4 linked regions of the Homo sapiens genome follow. The protein of the gene in region 3 purifies or fractionates together with the protein of the main gene of each other region. This does not show direct contact. Each region holds a gene or a part of one and is shown on either strand. Other genes may lie near its edges.

The links.
Region 1: the proteins of LMX1B (region 3) and FAM187B purify together in Homo sapiens (co-immunoprecipitation; one large-scale study listed by IntAct). This does not show direct contact.
Region 2: the proteins of LMX1B (region 3) and MEIS1 purify together in Homo sapiens (affinity purification with mass spectrometry; 3 studies listed by BioGRID and IntAct, with this or other methods). This does not show direct contact.
Region 4: the proteins of LMX1B (region 3) and NAA30 purify together in Homo sapiens (co-immunoprecipitation; one large-scale study listed by IntAct). This does not show direct contact.

What each region holds. Positions count from the first base shown.
Region 1 is NC_000019.10:35,223,979-35,232,198, forward strand, and holds FAM187B (protein FAM187B precursor), read right to left. Parts: upstream 4,762-8,220; 5' UTR 4,703-4,761; coding exon 3,981-4,702; intron 1,235-3,980; coding exon 847-1,234; 3' UTR 822-846; downstream 1-821.
Region 2 is NC_000002.12:66,563,653-66,571,124, forward strand, and holds part of MEIS1 (homeobox protein Meis1), read left to right. Parts: intron 1-3,800; coding exon 3,801-3,859; intron 3,860-5,014; coding exon 5,015-5,104; intron 5,105-5,397; coding exon 5,398-5,456; 3' UTR 5,457-5,493; intron 5,494-7,472. UniProt on the Homo sapiens protein: Acts as a transcriptional regulator of PAX6. Acts as a transcriptional activator of PF4 in complex with PBX1 or PBX2. Required for hematopoiesis, megakaryocyte lineage development and vascular patterning.
Region 3 is NC_000009.12:126,697,428-126,700,927, reverse strand, and holds part of LMX1B (LIM homeobox transcription factor 1-beta), read right to left. Parts: 3' UTR 1-3,500. UniProt on the Homo sapiens protein: Transcription factor involved in the regulation of podocyte-expressed genes. Essential for the specification of dorsal limb fate at both the zeugopodal and autopodal levels.
Region 4 is NC_000014.9:57,387,169-57,395,067, forward strand, and holds the start of NAA30 (N-alpha-acetyltransferase 30), read left to right. Parts: upstream 1-3,417; 5' UTR 3,418-3,537; intron 3,538-3,788; 5' UTR 3,789-3,789; coding exon 3,790-4,560; intron 4,561-7,899. UniProt on the Homo sapiens protein: Catalytic subunit of the N-terminal acetyltransferase C (NatC) complex. Catalyzes acetylation of the N-terminal methionine residues of peptides beginning with Met-Leu-Ala and Met-Leu-Gly.

The sequences.
Region 1 (8,220 bases), on a different chromosome or scaffold from region 3:
TCCCTCATTCTGCAGGAATCTTTGAGCATCTGGGCACCACATGAAGCCTTAAGTGTTTTGGCAACAGTGTCTGGTACACGAAGGATGAGCCCTGCCCTATCCTGGGGGCAGAGGTTCTGTTCTGGGAGAGTTTCATCTCTGTCCAGTCATGGCTTCACTGCACTATTAGGGCAATGAATTTTAATGGCATGAATTATTTTTCACTCTTGCACTCTGCTGAACAGTGTGTGATTTCTGGGAACAGTCAGGCCTGGTGATTCCTGCAGGTCAGCTGAGCCAGGCCTGGCACCTTGTACCAGCAAAAGGGCCTGTCTCCCCTTCCAAGGGCCTGAGGGGCCTCACTCCACCACAAGAGCCTGGAAAAGTGGCGCGTGTCTGGCAGTGCCTCTGACTTGGGGAGTGGTGGCTGGGCCTGAAGGCCTGGGCACAGTGGGGAGGGTGGGCAAGGGATGGGCAGGAAAAGACAGCAGGGCCCAGGGCAGATCTGGGGAGCCTAGAGGTGTCCTGCTCATATCCCCCATCTTGTAGTTGGGGGAATGGGATGAGTGAGGAGGCTATGAGTTACCACCTTTAGGGAGACACCCCAAGAATGGCCTGGTTCCATCTCTCCCTCCTTCTGAAGAACACAGGGCTTGGGACAGGCAACCTGGTTTGAACTAGAATCACCAGCCTCAGTTTCCTCATCTGTTCTATGGAAATTACTAATGAGTTAACAGAGCAGCACCTGACCCAGGGAAGAGCTCGGTCACCCTGGGCTACGGGGCACCGGGGCGGAAGTGACAGAAGGGGCGGCTGTGGCTAAGAGAGAACCGGAGGCCGGGTCCGCTTGTGCACCGGGGGCTCGCTTTATTTCACCACCAGCACCTGTGTGCTTCTCCTGCCCGGGGAAGGGTGGATGCACTTGAGCAGCGCCCCCAGCAGGGCCAGGACGGTGACCACGAGCAGCACCAGCTTCAGCCCCTTGAGCACGGAGTCCGCCCTGCCCCGCAGGGCCTTCCTTGCCTCCCGCCACTGGGCATCGTTCTCTCTCCACTGAGCCTCCAGCGTCTCCAGACTGGCGGCGGGTTTGAACTGGGCCACGAGCTCCTGCTGCACGAAGCACTTGTAGACGGCCGGCTGGAAAACCTGCAGCTGCCTGCCGCCGGTGGAGGGGTCCAGAAAGGTGGTGAAGTCCTGGCCGGAGAGCTGGCTCTCCCACGTCAGGGGGGTGTCGTTGGCACGCCAGTTGACGGGCCTGCGAGGAGGACAAGGTCAGGTGCAGGGCCAGGGAGAAAGGAGGGACCGACGTCTCCCTGAGGAACAGAAAATAAAGCACCGCCCAGTCCCCCTCCTCGCCACCCCCCACGGAGCACTGTGCAGCCGTCAACAGTGGGGTGGAGGAGGCACAGCTGGGGGCTCCCAGGGCTCCACCCGTTACTGGCCCCACCCCTTACTGGCTCCCCTCTTCCTGGCTCCACCCCTTACTGGCCCCACCCCTTACTGGCTGGGTGACCTGGGCAAATGCCTCCAGCTCTTTGAACTTCCATTTCTTTATGTAAAACTAAGAGTCTAGACCAGGCTTGGTGGCTCACACCTGTAATCCCAACACTTTCAGAGGCAAAGGCAAGGAGGATGGCTTGAGCCCAGGAGTTCAGAACCAGCCTGGACAACAAAGCAAGAACCCATGTCTGCAAAAATTTAAAAAATTAGCTGGACATGCTGACATGCGCCTGTGGTCCTGGCTGCTCAGGAGGCTGAGGTGGGAGGATTACTTGAGCCCAGGAGGTTGAGGCTGCAGTGAGCCAGTCACAGCACTGCACTCCAGCCTGGGTGACAGAGCAAGACCCTGTCCCAAAAAAGAAAACAACAAACCAAAAAAAATGGAGAGTAATGATTGTACCTCATAAGGTTATTTGGAGGAGTTAGCAAGGGCACTCCTTAAATGATTTGTCCACCTGCCTTTGCCTGTCTGGTCTCATCTCCTTCACTCTCCCCTTTACTCACTCTGCCTAGCCACGCTGCTCTCCTAGATGTTCCTCTGACATGCTGGGTGCAGTCTTGGCCCTGGCTGTTCCCTCTGTCCCCAGGGCTTCCTCGCCTCCTTTCAGTCTGGGCTGAAATGGCAGCTTCTCAGAGGAGCCTTCCCTGACCCCACCACTTGACACTTTTAACCTCCCCTATTCCCAGCATCCCTTCCTGCTCCGTCACCATCCAAAATACTATAGGTCGGGCACAGTGGCTCAGGTTTGTAATCCCAGCACTTTGGGAGGCCGATGTGGGAGGATCACTTGAGCCCAGGAGTTTGGGCTCAGCCTGGGCAACAAAGTGAGACCTCATCTCTACAAAACTTAAAAACTTAGCCGGGTGTGGTAGTGCATGTCTGTAGTCCCAGCTACTGTGGAGGCTGAGATGGGAGAATCACCTGAGCCCGGGGAATTGAGGCTGCAGTGAGCTGTGATTGTGCCACTGTACTCCAGCCAGGGTGAAAGAGCAAGACCCTGTCTCTAATAATAATAACAATAATAATAATAAAACTATATATTTATGCGCCACAAGGGCAAGAATCTCCGTTGGTTGTGTTCTTCACTGTTTCCCAGGTCCCTAGAATGGAGCTTGGCATATAAATATGCAGTGAACACGTGTTTAGTGGAGAAATGAATCAGGCACCGACACACCCAGCGTGGTGGAAGAACAGAGAGGATATTCCACAGACAATATCATAAAAGCTTGCATTCCCAGCTAGGTACATTGTGGAACTTCTTATTGGATGCTATGGCAGGCACTCTACAGTCTTTAGTCCCCTTAACACATCACAATGACCCTGTGTGGCCAGGGGCTGGCAAGACCTCTGCACTGAGTTAGACAGTGGCCCCCGCAAAATGCATGTCCTTCCCAGAACCTCAGAATGTAACATTATTTGGAAATTGGATCATTGCAGATATAATCAGTTGAGATGAGAGCATATTGGAATAAGGTGGGCCCTCAATCCCATCTGACCGGTGTCCTTTTAAGAAAAGGAAAAGAGAGACAGGGACACAGACACCCAGGAAGAATGCCAAGTGATGATGGAGGCGGGCATTGGAGAGAAGCAGCCACAAGCCAGAGAAGACCGGGATCTCTGACTGCATCCAGAAGCTAGAAAAAAGGAGGATTCTGCCCAGCTCACTCAGAGGGACTGAGAGGGAGCGTGGTTCTACTGACACCTTGATTTCAGACTTACGGCCTCCAGAAGGGTGAGACAATGGATTTCTGGGGTTTTTTTGTTTTTTTGTTTTTTGAGTCAGAGTTGTCTCGTGATGTTGCCCAGGCTGGAGTGCAGTGGTGTGATCTCGGCTCACTGCAACCTCCGCCTCCCGGGTTCAAGTGATTCTCCTGCGTCAGCCTCCTGAGTAGCTGGGATTACAGGCACGTGCCACCATACCTGGCTAATTTTTGTATTTCTAGTAGAGACGGGGTTTCACCATGTTGGCCAGGCTGGTCTCGAACTCCTGACCTCAGGTGATCCACCCACCTCGGCCTCCCAAAGTGCTGGGATTACAGGCATGAGCCACCGCGCCCAGCCTGCATTTCTTATTAAGGGGCAGGTGGACTGGGGGAGAGGAGGGGAAGGGGCTATTTTCCAGAGGCTCCTGGCAGGAAGTAAGAAGATGAGTGTGAGTTCTGGGAGGCAGGCCTTGATGGGAAGCCCCGGGGGCACCAGCCTCTCCTCCAAGGTCTCACTGACCTTTCCAGATGAAGCAGGGGCCTGTTGGAGCCCCTAAGCTTCCTGGGCTTCCCCCATCACAGCCCCATCTGTCTGCCTGGGCTTCTCCCATCCCGGCTCGCACCACCCTGGGCTGTGTCCCCCTCGGACTGTTTAAGAGCAGGGCCTGGCACTGTCCTGATGACCACTACGTGGCTGAACTGCAAAGAACGCCCACTCATCCCTCTGCACATATTACCAGGAAGGATCCCCTGACCGGAAGAATCTGGGTAGGGGCCAGAGGCAGGGATTCCATCACCTGTACATGGATCCTAAGGGACAGTCGAGCCACACAAATTCTGTCTTCTCATCGAGCCTGAAGTTGTCAAAAATGACGTAATCCACCCTTAACTGTGTGTTATTGGTGCACTGGACGTGGCAGGCTTCCACCTGCAGCTCAGGCCGCAAGCGGCTAGACCACACCAGCACCTCTCCCAGATAGAGCCAGCAGGGCATGGCTTCCTCCAGAGGCTCCTCAATGTAGCGGTACCCCAGGCGTTTACACTCGCCCGGCTCCTCACAGCGGTTGCAGTCCTGCCAGGGCTCCCACCAGGTAAAAATGAGCTGTTTGCTGCCCAAATGCAGGGTCTCGTTCTGCAGGGGCCTCTGACCCAGGTCCTTGTGTGTTATATGCAGGGTGGTGACATCCTGAAAGTCAATTTCATACTGCACCACTTGGCGGCCATTCTTGTTCCAGCAGTGGTAGAGGCCCGTCTGGGAGGGCAATGGATCTTTAATGAGAAGGCTGCCCTCGGGCATTATTTCCATATTGGAAATATTGGTGAGGCTGGTGAGCCTGCCCTTCTTGCCTTGTGTGAATAAATAGTACCAGTGCGCCCCCGAGGAGTTGCAATACAGGAGAATATCATTGCCTGAGAGTAGGGCCTGTTGGCACTGCTTACCACTGGGGCAGCTGATGGAAAAGTAGAACCCCAGTGCCGGGGCAGCAAAGTGGAGCAGCAGCCACAGCATGGGTGGCATGGTGGACTGGGGCTGTGGCAGTGGGCTGGTGCCACCCCGAACATTGTGAGGTCACCCATGAACTCTGGCCTCAGCCCTGGGCAGTGGGATGAATTGCAGCTACCACATGTGTGTGTGAGGTCACCATCCCCTTTTGTTTTGTGACAAGCTGACAACACTGTTTTTCTTTTTTTTTTTTTTTTCAGACAAGGACTCGCTCTTTTACCCAGGCTGGAAGGCAGTGCTGCAATCACAGCTCACTACAGCCTCAAACTCCTGGAATCAAGTAATCCTCTCACCTCAGCCTGTTGAGTAGCTGGGACTTCAGGTGCATGCTAACCATGCCCAGCTAGTTTAAAATTTTTTCTGTAGAGACGGGGTCTTGTTATGTTGCCCAAGCTGGTCTCGAACTCCTGGCTTCAAGCCATCCTCCCACCTTGGCCTCCCAAAGTGTTGGGATTACAGGCGTGAGCCACTGTGCCCCGCTGACCATATTTAATTTCTATTCCAAGCCCTCCATTTTGCTGGGAAAGGAGCAAACTTAATTTGTCTATTCAGAGTTTTCTCTACTACCTGCCCCGCTTCCTTTCCCAGGGGTGAGACTACATTCCCAGGGATGAAATAAGAGCATGAAGGTGTCACATGTGAACACTCAACACATATTTCCTGAACTCTTACTATGTTCTGGGCACACTTCTTAGCACTGGGGATAAAGCAGTAAACAAATCCTCTCGGGCTGGGCTCGGTGGCTCATGCCTGTAATCCCAGCACTTTTGGGAGGCTGAGGCGGGCGGATCACCTGAGGTCAGGAGTTCAAGACCAGCCTGGCCAACGTGGTGAAACCCCGTCTCTACTAAATAGCTGGGTGTGGTGGCGGGCATCTGTAATCCCAGCTACTCAGGAGGCTGAGGCAGGAGAATCACTTGAACCTGGGAGACGGAGGTTGCAGTGAGCCGAGATCGCACCGCTGCACTCCAGCCTGGGTGACAAGCGTGAAACTCCATCTCAAAAAAAATAATAAAAATTTAAAAAAATTTATCTCTGGTTACTGTTCTGACCTCCTGCACCTTTCCCCCTACTCCCTACCCTCCAACCACGCTGGCCTCCCGCTGTTCCCTGAATCTGTCAGGCAGGCAGAGGGGCTCTTGCCCCAGAACCATTGCACATGCTGGTCCCCGTCTCTTCCCTCAGCCATCTGCATGACTCAATACATCTTCAACAAATATTTTTCTCAGTTGCTCCCTTTCCTTCCATCCCCTTTTCTAAACACCTTCTCAGGCGGTGGCTCACACCTGTAATGCCAGCACTTGCCAGCACTTTGGGTGGCCAAGATGGGAGAATCACTTGAGGTCAGGAATTCGAGGCCAGCCTGGCCAACACGGTGAAGCCCCATCTCTACTAAAAATACAAAAAATTAGCCAGGCATGGTGTCGGGCATCTGTAATCCCAGCTACTCAGGTGGCCGAGGCAGAAGAATAGCTTGAACCCAGGAGGCAGAGGTTGCAGTGAGTGCAGATTGCGCCACTGCACTCCAGCCTGGGTGACAGAGACACTGCCTCAAATAAATAAATAAATAAATAAATAAATTAAATGATCTTCCAGACTTTTCCCAACATAGAAAAAGATGGAAGATTTCTATGAGACTTGCATCACCTTATCTCAAAACCTTATAAGGACATTACAACAAAGAAAAACCTCAGGTCAATCTCTTTTGTCAACACAGACACACTATCCCAAAGAAAATATTGCAAATTGATTCCAGTGATTTTCTTTACACAAGGATAAATATAAAGACCAAATTGGGTTATTTCAGGACGGCAAATTTGGGTTATATTTGCACATCAATTAATGTAATTCACCACATTAACAGAATAAAGGAGAAAAACCATATTATTATCTCAGTAGATACAGAGAATGCATCTGATAAAACTCAACATTCATTTATGGCTCAAAACTTTTGGCAAACTAGGAACAAAAGGAAATTTTCTAAGAAGATAAAGTGTTTCTATTAAAAACCTAGGACAGGCCGGGTACAGTGGCTCACACCTGTAATCCCAGCACTTTGGAAGGCCGAGGCGGGTGGATCACCTGAAGTCAGGAGTTCGAGACCAGTTAGGGTAACATGGCGAAACCCTATCTCTACTAAAAATACAAAAATTAGCCGGGTGTGATGGTGGGTGCCTGTAGTCCCAGCTACTTGGGAGGCTGAGGCAGGAGAATCATTTGAACCCAGGAGGCGAAGGTTGCAGTGAACTGAGATTGCGCCATTGCACTCCAGCCTGGGCAACAGAGTGAGACCCTGTCTCAAAAAAAAAACAAAAAACAAACAAACAAACAAAAACACCTAGGGCTAAATTATACTTCATAGTAAAATACTAAGAATAACACAAGTATTTCTGCCATCAACTTTTCCATTCAGCATTTTACTGGAGGTAAGATACAAGCAAAAAATTAGATATAAGGTCATATATTAAATATGATTTATATACCAGCAACAAAGAATTAAAAGATGAAACTTAAAAGATTACTATAGGATAGTATGAAAAAATTAAATACCTAGGAATAAATATAATAAAAGATATGTGAGTCCTCTACATTAATAACTTCACATTATTGGGAGAAATTAAAGAAAGACTAAACAATGGAAGTATTTGCCACATTCACGGATTGGAAGACTAAATATTGAATATATATTGATTTACCCCAAATTTATCTTTAGATTCAATAAAGTCCCAATTAAAAAAAAATAAGAGTTTTGGGGTGGAAACTACAAACCGATTCCAAAATTTGTATATAATGGGCCAAGAATAACCAAGACAATCTTGAAGAACAAAGTTGGGAAACACTACCACATATTGTGACTTATTGAAAGGTATAAAAAGACACTGTGGGCTGGGTGCAGTGGCTTGTGCCTGTAATCTCAGCACTTGGGAGGCCAAGGAGGGCAGAATCACTTGAGGTCAGGGGTTCAAAACCAGCCTGGCCAACCCCTTCTCTACTAAAAATATAAGAATTAGCCGGGCATGGTTGCGGATGCCTGCAATCCCAGCTACTTGGGAGGCTGAGGCAGGAGAATCGCTTGAATTTGGGAGATGGAGGTTGCAGTAAGCTGAGATTGCGCCATTGCACTTCAGCCTGGGCAACAGAGGGAGACTCCATCTCAAAAATAAATAAACAAATAAAAGGAAAAAAAAAAAAGAAAACCAAAGACACTGTGGCATTGGGACAAGGATGGATAGATAAATTGTATCCAGGGTCCAATCAGGAGACAGAAACATCAGTGTCTACATTGTCATGAGCCCATGGGCCTGAGTAGCTCGGTCTCTAGATTCTACATTTGGCCTCCCCCTGAATATCAGAAGCCTGTGCAGACAAGAACTAGGTCATTGCTGTGTCCCTAACATCACCTGCCCAGGGCACACTCAGAGGAAACACCAGGGAATTCTTCCTGCATGCGCATCTCAGCAAGCCAGTGAGGAGACCTTTTCCTTAGCAGAACCAACATGAAGGCTTATGGGCTGGGAGACGGAGCCCGGTTT
Region 2 (7,472 bases), on a different chromosome or scaffold from region 3:
TTTTAGAAACAAACAGCTGGACCAATTTATTTAAACAGATAGAGGGATGGGGAACTGACCTCAGTTTGACTTATAGTGGGAGGAGCAAGAATGTCATTTTATTACTTTGCCCAGAAGGAAAATGTTTTTGTATCTGAATTCACCCTGAAGCCATCTAAACATGGCTCTGCTGTGTGTAGCATAATTCCAAAGAGAGAGGATGTATAAAATAGTCTGGGATAATGATAAAATACACTAAAGAGAATCAAATGTGGAGATTGTTTAAGGTCGAAAAGGTGATGTTGTTTTAAAAATAAAATATTTTGCTATTTACTTTGTTGTTTTCACATAGATGTCCATCATGACCCCAAATAATTAGTTGTTCATATAAGTGTAGTAATTGTAATTCAGTAACGTTCTGAGAGATTACTACATCCTATATGTACTAATGATATTTCATTATATTGAATTTTTTAAATTAAATGTTTCACAAGTAAGAAGTTGCAGGTAGACCTACTAATGTGGTCAAACAGCTCAGAAAAGGTGATTAGTTTTTCTCAGGTTTTCAGTGTTTTTGTTTATGTTTTATTTTTTAATTAAAGGTTTCCCCCTTTGATATCTACACATTCTAGGGGTAGCTGACATCTGTGTTCTTAATAACAACAAACAGTTCTTGCCACCAAAAAGAAGCAAATAACATCTAGTACCTGTGGGCAGTTGGCTAAGAGGCTGTGGTATTTTTTGTGTGTATTTGCTTTCTACCTGGGGATCAGAGCAGGCCTGGAATAAATGTCGTTGGTGTTGTCCACTGCAAGGCTTCAGGAGGACATAGACAAAGATCAGCCTACTGAGCAGAGAGTGGTCCAGGTATTGAATGGACTCAATATCCTAGAAGGACTCACATTCTAGCAGGCACTTTTTAAGAATCACTAATGTTTAACCTAAGGATTAGAGGGGAGAAGGCTATAAAGCATAATGGCTATGTTTAACTATTTGAAGGGCTATCCTGTGGAAGTAAAATTAGAATTGCTTACAGTACCCCAAGGAGTTGTGCTGATAAAACTATTAGGTTGGGTGCAAAAGTAATTGTTTTTTTTTTTTTTAATTATACTTTAAGTTCTAGGGTACATGTGCACAACGTGCAGGTTTGTTACATATGTATACATGTGCCATGTTGGTGTGCTGCCCCCATTAACTCGTCATTTACATTAGGTATATCTCCTAATGCTATCCCTTCCCCCTCCCCCTGTAATTGTTGTTTTTGCCACTGAAAGTAATGGCAAGACCGCAATTACTTTTGCACCAACATAAATATTTTTGATCTAGTAAGGCAGAACCTTCTAACAGCCTTGTTTATAGATGGGGTGGCCTCTTAAGTAAGGTGGTGAGTGCTGTATTAGTTCAGCAGAGGTTACCTATGTACTTTTGGGGGACAGATATCATATAGGGGATTCATGTCAGTGACCAAACGAAGTGACCATTACAGCCCTTTTGAAACCTGAGGTGTAATTTTTAAAAATGAACTCACGACTTTAATAGTCATAGACTCAAACCTGAGTTGATTATTATGAATTAGTTTATGGGAGTCTCAATATGTGAATATGATGGAGACAAGTTTTGGAATACAGATAAATCAAGTCACTGTATTCACTCTCTCTCTCTCTCTTTGAATAGCCTTATCTTTGCCTATACACACAAACAGTGCAGCCATCAAAATTTTCAATTTACAAAATGTTCACAGTCATGCTTCTTCCTTGACTAAACACTGGGGTTGCTGCCAGTGGTAATTGGCTTGAAACCAGCTAATTTTTATATATCTATTTAGTCTGGATATTCTAGATGAGTGGCACTATAGTTGCGGTGCTCTAGTCACTGTGCCAGAGCACCAGGGAGGAGGGTGCTTGCTACCACTGACAGCTGTGTGTCATTTAGCAAATTATTAACATCTCTTTGGTAACATGTGACCTCAAAGAAGTCACCTAATTTCTCTGAGCCCAGGCTTCTCATCTGTTAAAAATGTCTCTTCCTATTTTTAGGTAAGTAGTATAAGTCACATCCATAAAAGATTATGTTTTTAAAAAGTCTGGAAAAAGAAAGTTAATAGACAGAATTCCTTCCCTCTAAGAGTCTGCAGATAATGAACAGTACCATAGATAAAGAGATGTTTTTGCTCTCTTACCTACATTAGTTACTATGAAAATTACTTTTGGTATATGCAGAATATTAATATTAAATAATTTTCTAATTGGTCATGCAGTGAAGGCAGCTAATGAAAAAACAGATTTTTTTTCATTTTAATTGGTTATTTCACATGGTGTTTGTGCTACACCTGTGCTTATAATGAGAATGGAGAATTAATCTAACCTTCTGCTCACATGATTCCAGTTTTCATGGTTTATACAAGATAATGATAACCTGATTTGCAACACAATTTGTTGTAGACCTGTGTTTTAAATATTTTTATTAGCAGTTCAGGGACTTCATATACAAGAACTGATATAATATGTATTGCCAACAAGAATTAGCACAAACAGTATACCTTTTAGTTAGATTCTAGTTTCATTATTTGTTTCAATTACTTCTCAGATAATGAAAGAACACAAGGATACAGGATATTGAGAATCTTAAAATGTTATGAAGTATGCATTTTTGTTTTGAAAACCTGTCCCTGTCTGTTTAATGGTTTGGTTTTTAGGAACTATTTTCCTTCCTGAAGTGGGCAGATTTACAAACTAGAATTCATACTGGACTATGGATCCTTTAATCATTAATAGAGCCTTATTAAACTTTTCATTGTATTTTTTATGTCCTGCTCAGATTTGATCTGAGTTGGGAACTAAAAGGAATTTACTATTTCAGAATCTAATATGTCCTCTTCATTTTCTGGATTTGATACGTAATTTTTAATATTATGCAGAACAAACGGATCTTAAGAGAATCTCATGCGTATGACTCTGGAGAGCGTATATTAATACTTTTTTACATGTCAGTGACTTGTCACTTTTGGAGAGGCTACAAAAATAATTGTACAAAACTATCTTATTAAGGCACTTAAAGTAACTTAAGTGCCTTAATAAGATGTTTATAAATTTTCAGTACTAGCTGGAGAAAGCAAAACTATAAGTTCAATTACTGTATATCTGTGACCTTGCCTTGACCTCAGACTTTACATAAAGAGCAAAAAAAAAAAAAACAACAACAACAAAAAAAGCCACCCCAAGAAATCTCTACAAGGAATGCATTTCTCTGAAGTCCTAAGCAGTGTGAGTTAGTGGTGATAAACTCCAGACATTCTCTCATTTGATGGTGTGCTGCCATCCCAGTTCATTATCTTAATAGTGGGCATTAAAATAGAATTAGGTTTGCAAGAGGTAGGGGTGGTTTTGATAAAAATTGTACAAAAGAAGTCAGAGAACATAAGATTGAAATGTCACTAATTAGGAGAGGTAACAGATGCCCTTATGAGCATCTAACTCTTTACACCAATTTTCTCTCTTTGCAAATGAAAGGAGTGGTGGCTAGTATTGTTTCCTGAAAACTCTGCTAATTCCCCCATGAAAAGATGAAATGGAAGTGTCCAACTGTGGTAAAACAGGCAAACATAAATCAACTCAGAAACCCCAAGCCTGTGTACTCAAAGGTCACTGGGGGTTACAGGTTTTCCAGCACGTGAGGCTGCACATAGAGCAATGGAGAGAACTGAAGGAGTCCCATTTTGCCAAGATCTAGTTTTACTCCAACTGCGATTCATCTTTTCCTCTTCCTCAACCCCCCCTTTTATTTTTAAGGAATAACGATTTGTTTCACTTTCTTGGTTACAGGTTTATTAATGCCCGGAGAAGAATAGTGCAGCCCATGATAGACCAGTCCAACCGAGCAGGCAAGTCCCCCATAGTGACTGTATTCAAGTCACGCAAGCGAAAACCATCCTCAAGCCATTCACCGGGAGGTCCGCTACCTGGTAAATAAACTGGGAGTGAGTATAGGAACGCCTGGCAATTAAAATTAAACCAGTTTCGTTTCATAACAACACTAATCAATTTAACATCATTATAAAACGTTTGGAGAAGGTGGAAAAAAAAAGCCAACAGAGAAAAGTAACTCTTAAATAATATGCTCAGTTACAATATTCTTTGTACACATTCAATATATTAATGTTATTTTTTTTCTGAGTTTGCCTTCCCAGCTCTTTCTGCTACTATGACCACTCCCTGGTGCATGGCTTGGTGTGGAATTGCTGTAAACTTTATTACCTGTCAAAAGGGCAAAGGGGTCAGGATTGCTTGTGGGACTCAGTAAAGTTCAAAGACATTCAATGAGGTAGAGCTTTTGTGTGCTTTAATAACCCAAGGCAGCTTACTTCTGAAGCAGCTTTTCATGTACAGTTAAAACACGGGATTCAGGTAGTGGTATAAATACATGGTTCTTATTTCTCAGACCTTCTCTTGTTAATATCCATCTTCTGGTGTTCGACTTTTTTTTTTTTTAATAACAGTCTTTTTGTTTTGTTTTTAAATTATGAGCTTAAAATGGCGATACTTCTATGGGATCCTGGCTTGTGGATCTAAAAATCCAAGAAACATCTCTCTAGGATTTGTTTTTGCATTATAATATGCCAGTAAGATAACAAGAGTATTTGCTAGGGGTGATGTGAGTCTTTACTTTCTTTATGAAATACTCTCTCATCTCTTAGGGAGCACTATGGAAAACTATGTTAGCATCGCATTGAGGCAACACACATTTACTCCTGTAACTTTTTTTCTTCCAACACCCATTATGTGGTCACCAGACAAAACCCAAGCAGAAAGTTTCCACACCTTAACTGTTCCCTCTTTGAGCTAGATGTTTTAAAAACTCAGTCACAGAGGTGTGTAGATCTAGTCTGAGAGAAATTTCACTTTGAATGTTTAAAAAATTATACTAGCCTGCTATGTTCTGTCTCTTTCTCTGGTATGTTCTCCTCTTAGTCTCTCTTGGGCTATTTCTTTTGCTCTCAGAGACTGTTATTAAAAAACCACATTCTGTACTTTTGTAGTAAGTCAAGGAACACCTTATAATCCTGATGGACAGCCCATGGGAGGTTTCGTAATGGACGGTCAGCAACATATGGGAATTAGAGCACCAGGTAAGACTTTGTTTTTGTGGTAGTTCCTCATTTTTGACTCCAAGAGTGTCATCCCCTCATCAACACAGGTAAATCCGCCTCATCCTTTTCTGTTATCTCAAGCTGGCTGCCTTGCCTTGTCTGCTATCTGTGCATCTAAGATATTGCAGAGGGGAAGCCAGGATCTTTATGCACTGAAGATCTCACTATTTCTCAACCCTCTAGATCCTGTTTTTTTTTTAAGGGTCTTTTGGCACTATCTGTTGACTTTGCTCATTTTCTGGCCTCTTCTTGGATTTTTATCTCCCTTCTAGGACCTATGAGTGGAATGGGCATGAATATGGGCATGGAGGGGCAGTGGCACTACATGTAACCTTCATCTAGTTAACCAATCGCAAAGCAAGGGGGAAGTAAGTACAAATGGGGTCTTTGTTTTCACTTTGTCCTAGGAATATTTTTCCTCTTGCATTTTCTTATGTTCTCCTTGCCCATAGCTTCATGCTTGTTCATTCCTTTCCATTAAACTCCTGGTTTCTTGCTTCCATCATTTTCTTTTTGGTTGTGATCAAGCTTTTAAGCTTATAAATACTGTGTATGATGTACATTTATCCTGTGTGTTGCTATTGTACAGTACTGACCACATGACAAAACAAGAAGCAGTCAGGAGGTGGGGGAGTGGGTTGTCATAGCAACAGACTGATTTGCAAAATGTAAGCAGTCTGCAGCAGTGCAAGGAGAGGGAAGAGCATGTCCCCAAAGTGTCATAAATCTGTCTAACCGCAGTTGATGCATGAGTTACATTTCTACACTAACCTGCAAGACACCGAAAAGCTAAACAGAGACTTCTTTTAGGTAAAATAAACACAAGCTTTACTTAGGGTAAGTAAAGGCATATTTTGAGCTCCAGTCAACTAAACTTTGATTTTTTTTCTTAGTTTATTCCTTTGTCTGTCCATCATAATGGGATTACGTGTGGCAATGGGAAAAGGGAGAATACAAAATAGAGGTGTGCACAGCAGGCTGCGGGGCTTAGCCCAGGCTAATTGACTATATCCAAATTAAGTATGCCATCACTTGCAGTGTGACAAATGGATTTGACTTATTCAGTATACAAAAATAGAGATCATTAATGCAATCATCAGTGGCAGGCCTAGTGAAGTGGGCCTAGGAAAACTGTCCCAGATTCTCACTCTTGCATTTTCTCTCCTATAAAGACACTCCAGCAATTCGAGTTCAAACAAGTAAAACTGTTTTGAACACCAAGGCTCTTGTTCACTTCCTAAATTACCCCTAATAGCACTGTTCTTGCTTTGTTTTTGAAATTAAAAGCAGTTATTTCAGAGTCTTGCTTGTGTCTCTGATTATATTTATGCACTATTTAAAATCACTGCTGAGGCCAGGGGTAATTCGTACTGGTCATCTTCTCTGGGTGTGAGTCAAATATAAGTTTAACAATTAGCTCTGAAAACATTCCATTGAGCTGGGGAATGCAACAGTCTTATTACCTCATCATGGAATTCTCTAGCTTAGTTAATTTAAATATTGTTTCTTAGTTTCTGGGTCAATTAAATTTAAATGATGTATTTTATGCTTCGTGACCAATTAAATTACTAGGTTATTACAAAAAAAATTATCATCTTTTTTGATTAAAGAGCTGTGGGTACAGTATATTTTATAAGCAATTTTCATTAGTTCAAAAATGTTCCTTTAGGCTAGATTAAGCAGCCATTCATTGTTAGAGCCTGGAGACCTTATTCGAAGGTGTTCATCGTATTCACAGTGCACTATTACTTAGAACTAAAGCCAATTGAACCTACTTAGCAATAGCGTTATGCCTTTCACCCTTGATGATTATGGAGCTTATAGCTCTCAGAAACAATACACCTGTCAGTTTCCATCAACTATAGCAATCCATGCAGAAGACAAGAGGCCCCCTCAAAGCAGGAGGGGTATTGTTTTAGGTCCAATTTTTCTTATTGTTCTCAAAATCATTATAAGGTGGACAGTGTTTTGTGAAGATTTTCTTTTCCCCAGCTCTAAGAAACCATGTGGAAAGAATTCATTGATAACTGTTTTGATTTTTTTCTTTTTTTAAGTACAGGTTTTGCTAAGTAATCACCCTTAGTGAGCCTGTGTAGTTCAGCTGCCTGTGAGATGTTTGGTGACCAGCTCAGTGTATTCTTGTATTCTTGATAGAGAATATTTCAGGAGACAAAAGTGCTTCTTCAGACCAGACCTCAAATAACAATTTTATTCTTTTTAATAAATAAGACCTCAGTAGGCGGACCTGATAACAGTGACAATGAAAGGAAAATAGTGGCAAAATGTGAGTTTCCAGCATGATGTTTCTCATTTTATTTTCTTCTGTATGAATCAAAAGAATGCTTTA
Region 3 (3,500 bases):
GGCAGGGTGGGGGTGGTGGTGTGGTAAACGCTAATAAATAATTTAACAATGACAAGTTATTAAATAAAATGTGTCTGGGGATGGCGGGTGGGTAGTGAGAATCTGTCTGTACAAGGAAAACAGGAATGGCCGGTGGCCCATCCCCACACCTGGCTGGGCTGGGCTCCCATGGGACCCCCAGGTGGGGTCGGGGGAACCAGCAAAGAGGCTCATTGGCAATGGTGCCTTCCAAGGGCCAAATGTTGGAGGGGTCTTTCCTGCTCCCCCAGTCCCCAGGCCACATGTGCCTGTGAGTATGGGTCCGCAAGCCTCCGTGTGCGTCCAGGTGTGAGTGTGTGTGTGCGAGCGCGTGCGTGTGAGCGTGGAGCCCTTTCCCCCCAGGGCAGACTTAGCCCCAGAGCTGCAGGCTCTCCCTCACCCTAGGTGGTGCCCAGAGCTCAAGGATGGAGCCAGGCAGGCATCAGGCAATCCTCCTTCCTGAGGTTCCCTGCGTGCAACATGAAAAGGACATTCAGATGGGGGCAGAGTGGGGAATCAGCCTCTTGCTAGGAGGCTGCAGGGCTTCCCAAAGGAGAAGAGGCTTGTCCCTGCCAGGCCCTGCTCATCTGATGCAGCGCCAGGGCCTTCCCACCTTTACCCACCCTCAGGAAGCCTCCTAAGATGCCCAGCCACGTGCACCAACCCCCTTTCTGAGCTCTTTCCAGGCTGTGCTGGCACCTTGGTCTGACTCTTGTGAGCAGTGTCTCTGTGTGGCCTCCCTGTGCGTTTCCCAGGATAGCAGAGTACCTGGGAGGCTTCACGGAGTAGGCAGATGAGGCTCTGGCTGGGGCCATGCCCAGCTTTTTGTCCCTCCTCTGCCCTGTGTTACCTGGGGCAATTATTTCCTCTTTCTGAGCCTTGACTTCCCCAGCAGGGAAGTGGAACTTGGTCTTTTGCCAAGACTCCCCCTGCCCACCTCTCATTCTCTTTTGCTCTGGAGACCACACAGTTATCTCCCTCTTCCCACTCCAGCCCCCTTAGTGATGAAGGTTCCATGTCACGGCACGGGCAAGGGGTGGTCCTGGCTACTCCCCGCCCAGCTCCCAGCCAAGGCTGCAGCTCCTCCCATAAAGTGGGAGAAGGTTGCCCAGCCCCACAGGCTTCTGCTGGGTGGCCCTGAACACATCGCCTCCCTTCTCTGAGCCTCAGGCTCCTCATCTGAGAAACGGGTCCCTGCCATGTCTGGACTCTCTGGCTGGGCCGGAGAGTCTGGCTTTCCTTCTAGGAGACACCCCTCAAGGCAGGCCCTGCATCTTGTTCATCTGCGAGCCACACCCAGTCCGGGGCTGGGCAGAGTGGGCACTGGTGTCTGGGAGCCTGTGGGCAGCAAGGCACAGCATAGAGCAAGGGGCCCCTAGCCACGGCTGACAGGGCGCCTCCAGCATAAGGGACTCTCTGAGGTCCCTTCTGGCTTTAACAGTCTGTGGGTCACAAGCATGCTGTCCCTAGACCAGCTCCTGGCATGGGGTCCCGGCTGGATTCGGGGGTTTGTGAGGCCCCAGAATGGGAATATGTGACCCCAACAGCTGGCAAGTTTACTAAGAACAAGTTGTGACCCCCTGACCTGGAGGTCATTCACAAACCACAGGGGACAGTGGGGCACAACGTCCCTGTTCTCAGCTCAGCTCTGTCACTAACCCGGACCTTGGACAGGCCTCTTTCCCTCTCTTGCCTCAGGGTTTCCAACTATAAAATAAGGGGCAGATGAGATGACCGCTTCTGACGTCCCTTCCAACTTATTGGGTCTGAGAGAGAAGGGCCAGGTCTCCTGGGGGATAGGGCATCTGCCCCTGAATCTGCCCAGGATGTCCCTGGCACGATTCAGATGGTGCATGTGCAAAAGGAGAAAGAGGGGTGTCTCTCCAGAAGCCAGTGCAGCTGCTGCTCAAGAGACCCATGGTGGCACGGACCCTGGTGGGCTGAGGCGGCAGAAGGACCAGAACATCAACTGAGGTCCTTGGAGAGGCTCTGTTTGTAAGAAGAGCTGCAGAAGGGCTAGCTGGCTGCTGGGGCCCAATGGGTGACACGAGGCCACATGTCAGGCAAGGAGGTTGGCCCAGGACATTCTGGGGGGACTGAATTTCCCAGCAAACGGGAGCAAAACCACAGAACAGGTTGAACTTAGAGGATTCCAGAGATCCAGGCAGAGGGCCCCAAAGGTGGAAAAGGGACATTCATTATCCTTACTTGCTCAAAGGTTGGACCAGGCAGACTTTAGGGTGGTGGCCTAGGGCTTGACCTCAGAGTTAAAGGTAGGGTTGTGAGCACCTGAACAAGGGGACACAGTGATCACCAGGGGACAGGGTGGGCTCACCAGTCAGGCCCCAGCAGCCCAGCCTCCTTGCTCTGACAGGGATAGAGTTGAGCAGACTGGGGCTGGGGATGGATCTAGTGCACCTGACTTCCAGCAGGGCGCCTGACACAATCTTCTGCAATTGCCCTGGGAGAAGGGGGCAGGAAATGCAATTGGAATGTGTCCCCCAAAGAGGATGCATTAATGGGCCAATGTCAAACAGGGAGAGGCCAGCCCGGTCCACACACCTCAGGTGAGACCCAGGGCCAACTCCTCACTGGGCAGATGTGCTGGGAGAGAGGAGAGCAGTGGTCACTGAATCAGGGTGCAGAGAAATTCCACAGGCTGGAATGAATCGAGTAAGAAGGAATGGAAAAGGAAAGAGGTCACGGTCCCTCATTCAGTCTAAACAGTAAGTGCAGACTGGGTGCGGTGGCTCACGCCTGTAATCCCAGCACTTTGGGAGGCCGAGGCAGGCGGATCACCTGAGGTCGGGGGTTGGAGACCAGCCTGACCAACATGGAGAAACCCCGTTGCTACTAAAAATACAAAATTAGCTGGGTGTGGTGGCGCATGCCTGTAATCTCAGCTACTAGGGAGGCTGAGGCATCAGAATCACTTGAACCTGGGAGGCGGAGGTTGTGGTGAGCCGAGATCGCGCCATTGCACTCCAGCCTGGGCAACAAGAGCGAAACTCCGTCTCAAACAAAACAAAACAAAACAAAACAAAACAAAACAAAACAAAACAAAACAAAACAGTAGGTGCCCCCATCCTGCATATACACAGAAAACAGATGTGGCTTAGCTGTCACTTGCGTGTGGGGCCCAGGGATTTAGCTACAGCAGGGCAGGGTGAATCTCTAAGGTCATGTGGCCAAATCATTGTCTTTTGGGCCAAATTAACAGAGGAAGGGTGCCACAGCAGGAGAGGTGATGTGCCTGCTCACTTCTGGCCGGCTGACATCAGTGGGAAGGTGAAGTGATACCTGCCCCACACCTTTAGAGGGACAGCCGGAGGCCTGCTGGGGGACAGTGTTAAGAGGGAGAGCTGGGGAAGCCTGGCTCTGGGATGCAGGACAGCACAGCTGCTGTGGGCTCGCTGACCTAGTGAGCTCCTTGTCACTGGAGGTATGTGAGGGGAGGCAGAGGTGGCTGGGGAGAGGACCAC
Region 4 (7,899 bases), on a different chromosome or scaffold from region 3:
AATTTGATGTATGTTCTTTCTTTCATTCAAGATGAAACAAAGTTAAGGACATTCATTTTCAGGGCTTTATGTATAATAGATAGGATTAGTGGGATTAAGAACCACATGACATGTAAAATAAAACTACACAAATATTTAAATTATTTAGTATGTGTGCCTATGGCACATAACAATGTCATCCTGCTGTGTCAAGGGAACTTAAAGCATCTTTCCATTATTCATTCCCACAGTTACCTTTCAGGTAGGTACACAGCTAGGTTTTCTCTCTAAACCTAGCCAATAAGAGAAAAATGCCTCACTGTTAGAAAGAATTAAATAGAAATTTTTCTCCTTCCAAGCTGATTTCAATAAATTGCTTCAGGATGTTGTTTTAAAATTGCTATTGGTTATTTTAATTGATTTAATGAGAAGCTTTTTTTTCTTCTAAAAAATTAAGGCATGTTCTCTTCTTCCTCAAAAGAGAACAACAATAGTAAAAAAAAAAAAAAAAGAAAAAAAAAGAAAAGAAAAAATGGCTGTTGCTTCATAGGATATTACAAAACAATGAAAATATCAACTAACCACACAGAAGAGTATCACTGCTACACTCACCTTGCTCTGAGCCCATTCTTTCCTATGAAGTATTGCTCATGGAGGTAGTTGTTTTTTCAGAGTCTCATAATAGTAAATATGTCTAAAGCATTAGAGTGAACTAATCCTATTTCTATGCCTAAAATAGTGCTATCATCCTATCAAGTAAACATGAATCAAATAGAAAAGATTTCATAAGTTATAAAGGCAATTTTTTTTAGAGATGTCATCTGATTTAGAAGGCCAACATTGTAATTTTAATACTGGGATATAAAGAAAAATCACTGGGGCTGAGACATTAGAATTACCCCACTAGTTATTGAGGAGGTCAGAATTTACTTTGTCATTATAAGCATTCTAGGTTACTGAATGAGAGACTGGTGTACTTCAGTCAAAAAGCTTAACAATTTCCCTTTTATGTGTTTGATATGTGAATACAAAGTGACTAACATTTACTCCCTGGCCTCAAGAAGGTCCTTACAACTCTTGACTTTCTGAAAACCACTTTGAGACAACATCTGGTCAGCTCCTCAGTGTGACAGAGCTCAATGCCAAGTTGCAACACAGAAAGAACAGGAAGGCCTGCTGCCATTCATTCACTACAGTGAAGGTACATGCTTTTTAGGAAGGGCTTACATTTAAAAGTAAATTACTGAGAGGTATTTTTCTAAGTAAAATTCACCCTTAAACATCTCTTATGGAATTATCTGGTGCCTCTTGGGCCAGTTTTTCCACCATGATTTGAACAGATCATTGTTTCATTGGCTGACTACCCAGGTTACACTTAGAAACTTTGAAAAACATGTATCTTTAAACAATGTATGCACATTTGGAAACATGGTTTTGTTTTGTGCTTTTTAAAAGACAGAAAAGGGATCACGCTGTACTTATACATCTCATTTATATCCCCCACACATCAAGGTGTTTAGGAGGTTTTCAATGTATCTGTAGCAAGTTATACATTCTGAAAATGGCCACAGCAATATTTCTGGTCCCATATGCTCTTTGAGAACCTTGCCTCTCTCCACCAAGAGTAGAGTCTATTTCCCCTCCTGTCAAAACTGGATATAATTTTGTGTCTGCCTAGATACAATGCAGCAGAACTGACACTACATAACTTGTTTTTTGTTTCTTTTTGATGAGAGGGAGTCTCCCTGTGTTGCCCAGGCTGGAGTGCAGTGGCGCAATCTCGGCTTACTGCAACCTCCGCCTCCCGGGTTCAAGTGATTCTCCTCAGCCTCCTGAGTAGCTGGGACTACAGGCATGAGCTACCACGCCCGGCTAATTTTTGTATTTTTCGGCAGAGATGAGGTTTCACTGTGTTGGCCAGGCTGGTCTCGAACTCCTGGCCTCAAGAGATCCTCCCGCCTGGGCCTCCCAAAATGCCAGGATTACAGGCGTGAGGCACCGCACCTGGCTAGAGACTACATGACTTCTAAGGCTAGGTTATAATGGGTAATATGCTTCTGATTGACTTTCTCGCACGATACTTGCCGTGGAACCCAGCCACCAGGCTGTGACAAAGCCCAAACCAATCAATGCTAAAAGACCACCGGGAGAGGTCTACATGGACTAGAACTGAGGCCTCCAGCCTTTATCCTGCATCAACCATCAGCGGTGAAAGTGAAGTTTTCAAATAATTCTACTCCTCAGCCTTAGAGTCTTCCAACTGAAGCTCTACGCATAATGGAGTAGAGAAAAGCCATCCCAGTTGTGCTCTGTCTGGATTTCAGAGGCACAGAATCTGCGAGCATAATAAATACTTTATACATAGAGTTTAGATTACGGCAAAAAGTTGCAAACGTGTTCCGTCATAGAATTATATATTGAAAACGTCCATCTGCGGCACACCAGACCAGCTCTATAAATCAGGTTTTTAACAAAACCGAATTTGTTCAGTGAGCGGGTGAGTTACACTACCTGTCTCAGCTCAGACCTGCCGGGAGTCAATTGTGGACTAGAGCAGAAGGCGCCCAGCCACAAGCTCAAGTTCTATCCCCTTTGCACTCGATAGGCAGATCCCCTGGGAGGATCAGGCCACCTGTTTACCAGTGCTTCCTAACCTATTTGTGTCACAAGTTTAGGAGTGTGCTTCTTAGCCCTGGTCACTCTCTTTCACCACCTCTCTCTAACCCTTCCCCAGGTGTGCTAGCAATTGCCCAACACCTGTCAGTCACTTTTGCCTCCAATTTTACTGGGTGCGAGGAGCAGAGTAAGGAGGGAGAGGAAGAGGGCTGACTCCCTTGCCTCAAAGTGGCAAGGGCCAGCTGAACTTAATTCACACTGCAAACCACCACGTTTCGACAGCCATCCCCATATTTTCACAGCTCAAATCTTCCTTTCTTTTTCGGTCGGCTTCTCTGATTTGCTCCATTTTTAATCGCTCCTCCCCCATCCTCCTTGCCCCTGGTCAGGGCAAACATTAAACGCTGTGCAGCTTTAAAAGGGCATTTTTAGGTGACTTGTAAACGGCTTGTTCCACAGGCCCCGAATTGGCGAGATTCGCTACAGCTCGGAGTGCGCGGTAGACTTTAAGCAGGGAGCGCCTGCCCGGTCCATCCCTCCCCGGCCCCGCGTGGCAAGCACCGCAGGTTGAGGCGCCCCCAAACCGAGGAAGAGGGTTTGGGAGCCTGTGACTCCAAAGCCCTCTGCAACTTCCCGGCCCCACAGCCCCACCCACTAGCACGCGGCCTTCCCCGCAGCCCGCAGGAGACACCTTTGTCCCCGCCCCTCCACAGGTCACCTCCCTCCACGCCCCTCTCTCTTGGCCCGGGCAGCCGGCAGGCAGGGAAGTGTCGTAAAGCCAGGCCCAGGAAACTTTACCCGGCCTAACAGCTGAGGCGCTTTACGGCGACGGCGGCTGAGTGAGAACCTTGGCGGCTGTGGAGGCTGCCGCGGCTGCGAAGGAGGCGGCGGCGGTGGCGGAGGAAGAGGAGTGGCGGCAGCGGCGGCGGGGACCCGTGCGGGGTGAGCCGTGAGGAGGGGCCGCGAGTGACAGGGCTGGCGGGTGGGCCCGGGCGGACGGGGACGGTGGCCGGCTGAGCAGCTGGGCGGCGCTGAAGAGCGGGGGGGTGGCGGGGAATTGGGGGGCAGCTCCGTGAGGGACGGTTTCTGCCTTTGTTCCCCCCACCTCGGCCGCCCCCCATCCGTCGCCCCCTGTTCTCCGCGCTCCTCGGCCGGGTTTCATGGCCTCCCCTCTCGGTCTGTGTCGCTTCTAGGATGGCGGAGGTACCGCCTGGGCCTAGCAGCCTCCTCCCACCACCAGCACCTCCGGCCCCGGCGGCGGTCGAGCCCCGCTGTCCCTTCCCGGCGGGGGCCGCCCTCGCCTGCTGCAGCGAGGACGAGGAGGACGACGAAGAGCACGAAGGCGGCGGCAGCAGGAGCCCGGCGGGCGGAGAGTCGGCGACGGTGGCGGCCAAGGGGCATCCGTGCCTCCGCTGCCCTCAGCCGCCGCAGGAGCAGCAGCAGCTCAACGGATTGATTAGCCCCGAACTGCGGCACCTCCGGGCGGCCGCCTCCCTCAAGAGCAAGGTCCTGAGCGTAGCAGAGGTGGCCGCGACCACAGCCACCCCTGACGGAGGCCCCAGAGCGACTGCAACAAAAGGAGCCGGGGTACACTCGGGCGAGAGGCCCCCTCACTCCCTCTCTAGTAATGCAAGAACTGCGGTCCCCAGCCCGGTGGAGGCAGCGGCGGCGAGCGATCCCGCGGCGGCCCGCAATGGACTGGCCGAGGGCACCGAGCAGGAGGAGGAGGAGGAAGACGAGCAGGTGCGGCTGCTGTCTTCGTCCCTGACCGCCGACTGCAGCTTAAGAAGCCCTTCGGGCAGGGAGGTTGAGCCTGGGGAGGATCGGACGATACGATATGTCCGATATGAATCCGAGCTACAAATGCCCGATATCATGAGACTGATCACCAAAGATCTGTCCGAACCCTACTCCATTTATACCTATAGATATTTTATCCACAACTGGCCACAGCTGTGCTTCTTGGTAAGTGGATAGAATAAAAAGAGGGTGAACCCAGCAGTGATCGAGACTGTGCGGGGCAGGGAGTGAGGGCCCAGAATGTGGCAGTGGATATCTCCTGCTGCGTATCATAGTACGTTATATGATGTCAAGTGCTGTACACATTCCTAGTTATTTAATGAAATTGTTTTGAAGGTAAGACTTCATGATTCGGGTTAACGTGATACTAGTGTAACTGCAGCAAGCCTGTATGGTGGCGTGTTTCACTGGGGTGGGGGTCTTGTGTCTTGTTTACATTAGATTATAATCGTGTTTAACCGTCTTTAATTACCCGCCCGCATCCTCAAACACTTTACAGTCATTTAATTTGAACATGGTTCTGTTCAGATACAGGCCTTATTAGTCTCTCGATTACAACCATAATCAGGGAAGAGTGTATGCATAAACATGTTGTGGTGAACATGGATGTCAGCAAACTTGGTGTGGTCATATTGGAGAATTAAATCTTACAAGCATTTTCGGTAATTATGGAGATGTTTCTCTTTACTTCAACTGGACAATTAACAGTTGTAGCCAGCCTGCTTTCTGGTACTCCATTCCAGAAAGCGCTACTAACACTTCTGGTGGCTGAAAGACTCCTGAAACTTGAACAAAATACCCTTTTGTGGAATGTAGAAAACTTGTGTGAAATTGTTACCGATCTGATTTTTTTTTTTTTAATTTAAGAAACTGGTTGTAGATGTGGCCAAACACTAGTAACACTGGCTTGTGTAGAGTATAATTGACAATAATATTACACGTAAGTGAAAGACTTTTGGACGGTTTTTAAAAATTAACATAGTATTGGCAGTACCAGTAATTTCTTCACAATAATATTGACCCATTTCAGTCTGTATGAACCCTTTAACTTAAACGTTGACTGCAGGTGTATGCTTTGTATCATGTGCTCACAAGCATATTGTTTCTGTTGAATTTTACTACAGAAAGATGACATCCTTTTAAGGAATATTTTTTAATATGTGAAGGGAAAAGCCACCATTACTTAATGTTTTAGCATTGGCTTAGTTTCACTTGGTAATTCCCTGCAAGATATTTTGACAATACTTATCTTTTTGATTCTCTAGCTTGGTGATAATTTGAAAATGTAACCTGGGTATTGTAGATAATGGTAGTTCTATTTTCTGTCTTAACTTGCTTAAACTTCAATTCAGTACATTTGTTAAAACTGTGGGTACTACTTTATATTCTTGAAAACTGCTCTTTCAGTATTCTAAGCATTGTATCAGAATAGTTCTAAGACATGTCTGTGTCAATGAATATGAGAAAATGATTTATAGCACTATTATAAATGTCATATCAAATGCCACTGTAATTGCTAAAAATTGTAGATTTAGTTGTAAGTTAACCCACAGAAGTAGATGATTGAGTCACATTTCAAGTTGAAATAGATGTTTTTCTGTCAATTCCAGGAAATAGTTGTGTATATGATATTTAGTCAACTTTGAGTCCTGATAGTTACCTAAGCCTCTCTCAACTTGTTTGCTATTTTAGACTCTGGTCAACAATATTAGTAAACTTTAGATTTGATTTTATGTAGAACCCTCCCAATTCACCAGCTAATGTGTATGTTAGCCTTTAGTAGCTCAAGTTTGTTTAATATTCTGAGTATCTAGAATTGCGATATGCACAAGTGGTTGACCTATAAGATTTACTGGTGCAAGTATGAATCAGGAGGTATTAAACAATAATAAAACAGTAAAAAAACAACCAGGCCATTTAAAACTGAAGCCTTTATCTTGGCATACTTTTAAATTTAAGTTTCCCATAGGAACTATTTTTTTAAAAATACAGATGCGTAAATGTCTGTTTATTTTAAATCATATCCTTTTAGAACTGAAAGCCATCCTAGAGATAATCTAGCCCAACTTAGGTTTTGTTCTGTTTTGTTTTTTGATTGAAAAAAAGTTAAGAACCAAAGTGACTTAAAATGTTTCAATCTCCAGATATTTACTGACAGAGGGGTAGGTTTTGTTTTGTTTTTTGATTGAAAAGAAGTTAAGAACCAAAGTGACTTAAAATGTTTCAATCTCCAGATATTTACCGTCGGAAGGGTAAAGCTAGAACCCAGTTCTCCTGGCCTCTCATTATGGTAACAAACAAGAACCTGAAAAATGACATACCCTTGATCCATTCAGTGAAGATTATTGTGTCACCAAGTTATCTTCACCAAGGGACAGTTGCCCTTACATCAATCTCAAGAGATTAAAAACCTCCAAAATGTTCCGTTTTCCGTGGATAACCTGTAATGGGTCAATGGAGTATATGGGGTTGAACCTTACAAAATTGCCAATACTTGATTAATAAAAATGATAGCTTATTATGATTCTTCCTAATTGTAAAAGATGTAAAAAAAAAAAAAAAAAAGGACAAATGTGAGACACTTTCAGTTACTCTGTACTTAACCATTTTATCTTTACCTGTTTTCATAGTAACATTTTCAGTTGTTGGTATCTTTTTGAAGTTCTTAAACTTACTCTCAGCAAATGTAACATAGTACTTCCATTTATTTGTTCTAAATTTAACTTTTTGGCTTCCTCCAGTTTTCTATTTGTAGTGTTCTAGAATTTGGGAATCTCTCACTTTATTTTTTTCATAGTTTTATAGACTGACAACCCTTTGGCCTTGTAGTGTTAAGTCTTAATCTTGCCGGGGATTTTTCAGTTCCCATCCTTGAAAAAATACATTTAATAGCGTGAATTCCAAATGTATATGCAGAGCTTTTATTTGGAAAAATTGACAAGCAATTTAGTGATTCCTGTAAATGTACCACATATTCATGAGTAGTTTATCAGGAAAAAAAAATGCAGCATTGGTCTTCACTACTAATGTCATCGTAATGGTGTATGATATATTGGGCTTTTTAGATGATGTATACAGCTTGATTTTTGCTCCTATAGATTCTAAATTAGGAAGAAATCAGGTCTTAAGAATGAACTAATTTAATATTTTGTTTGCTTATTCCATGCTCAAAGGACAAAGATTTGTTTGAAATTCCTGTTCAGATTGAAAGTACTGTCCAGTTGTATTGTGTTTAATGGTTTTAATTTTTCCTCATTTTTGGATAGTTTTATATAAGGTGTAGCTATTCTGAGGTTTGTATCATCAATCTAATACAGGTTTTCATTTCACCTGAGCCTGGCTTATGAGGTCAGGCCAAAATTTTTTCTGGCCCTTTTAAATATACCATTTGGTCTGTGATAATTTTATGTATGTGTATGTATTTATACGTGTCTGTATATACGCACATATATTTGAAGTGAGTTTCAAATCAGAAAAAGCTTTCAGAGTTGGTCGAGGCGATTT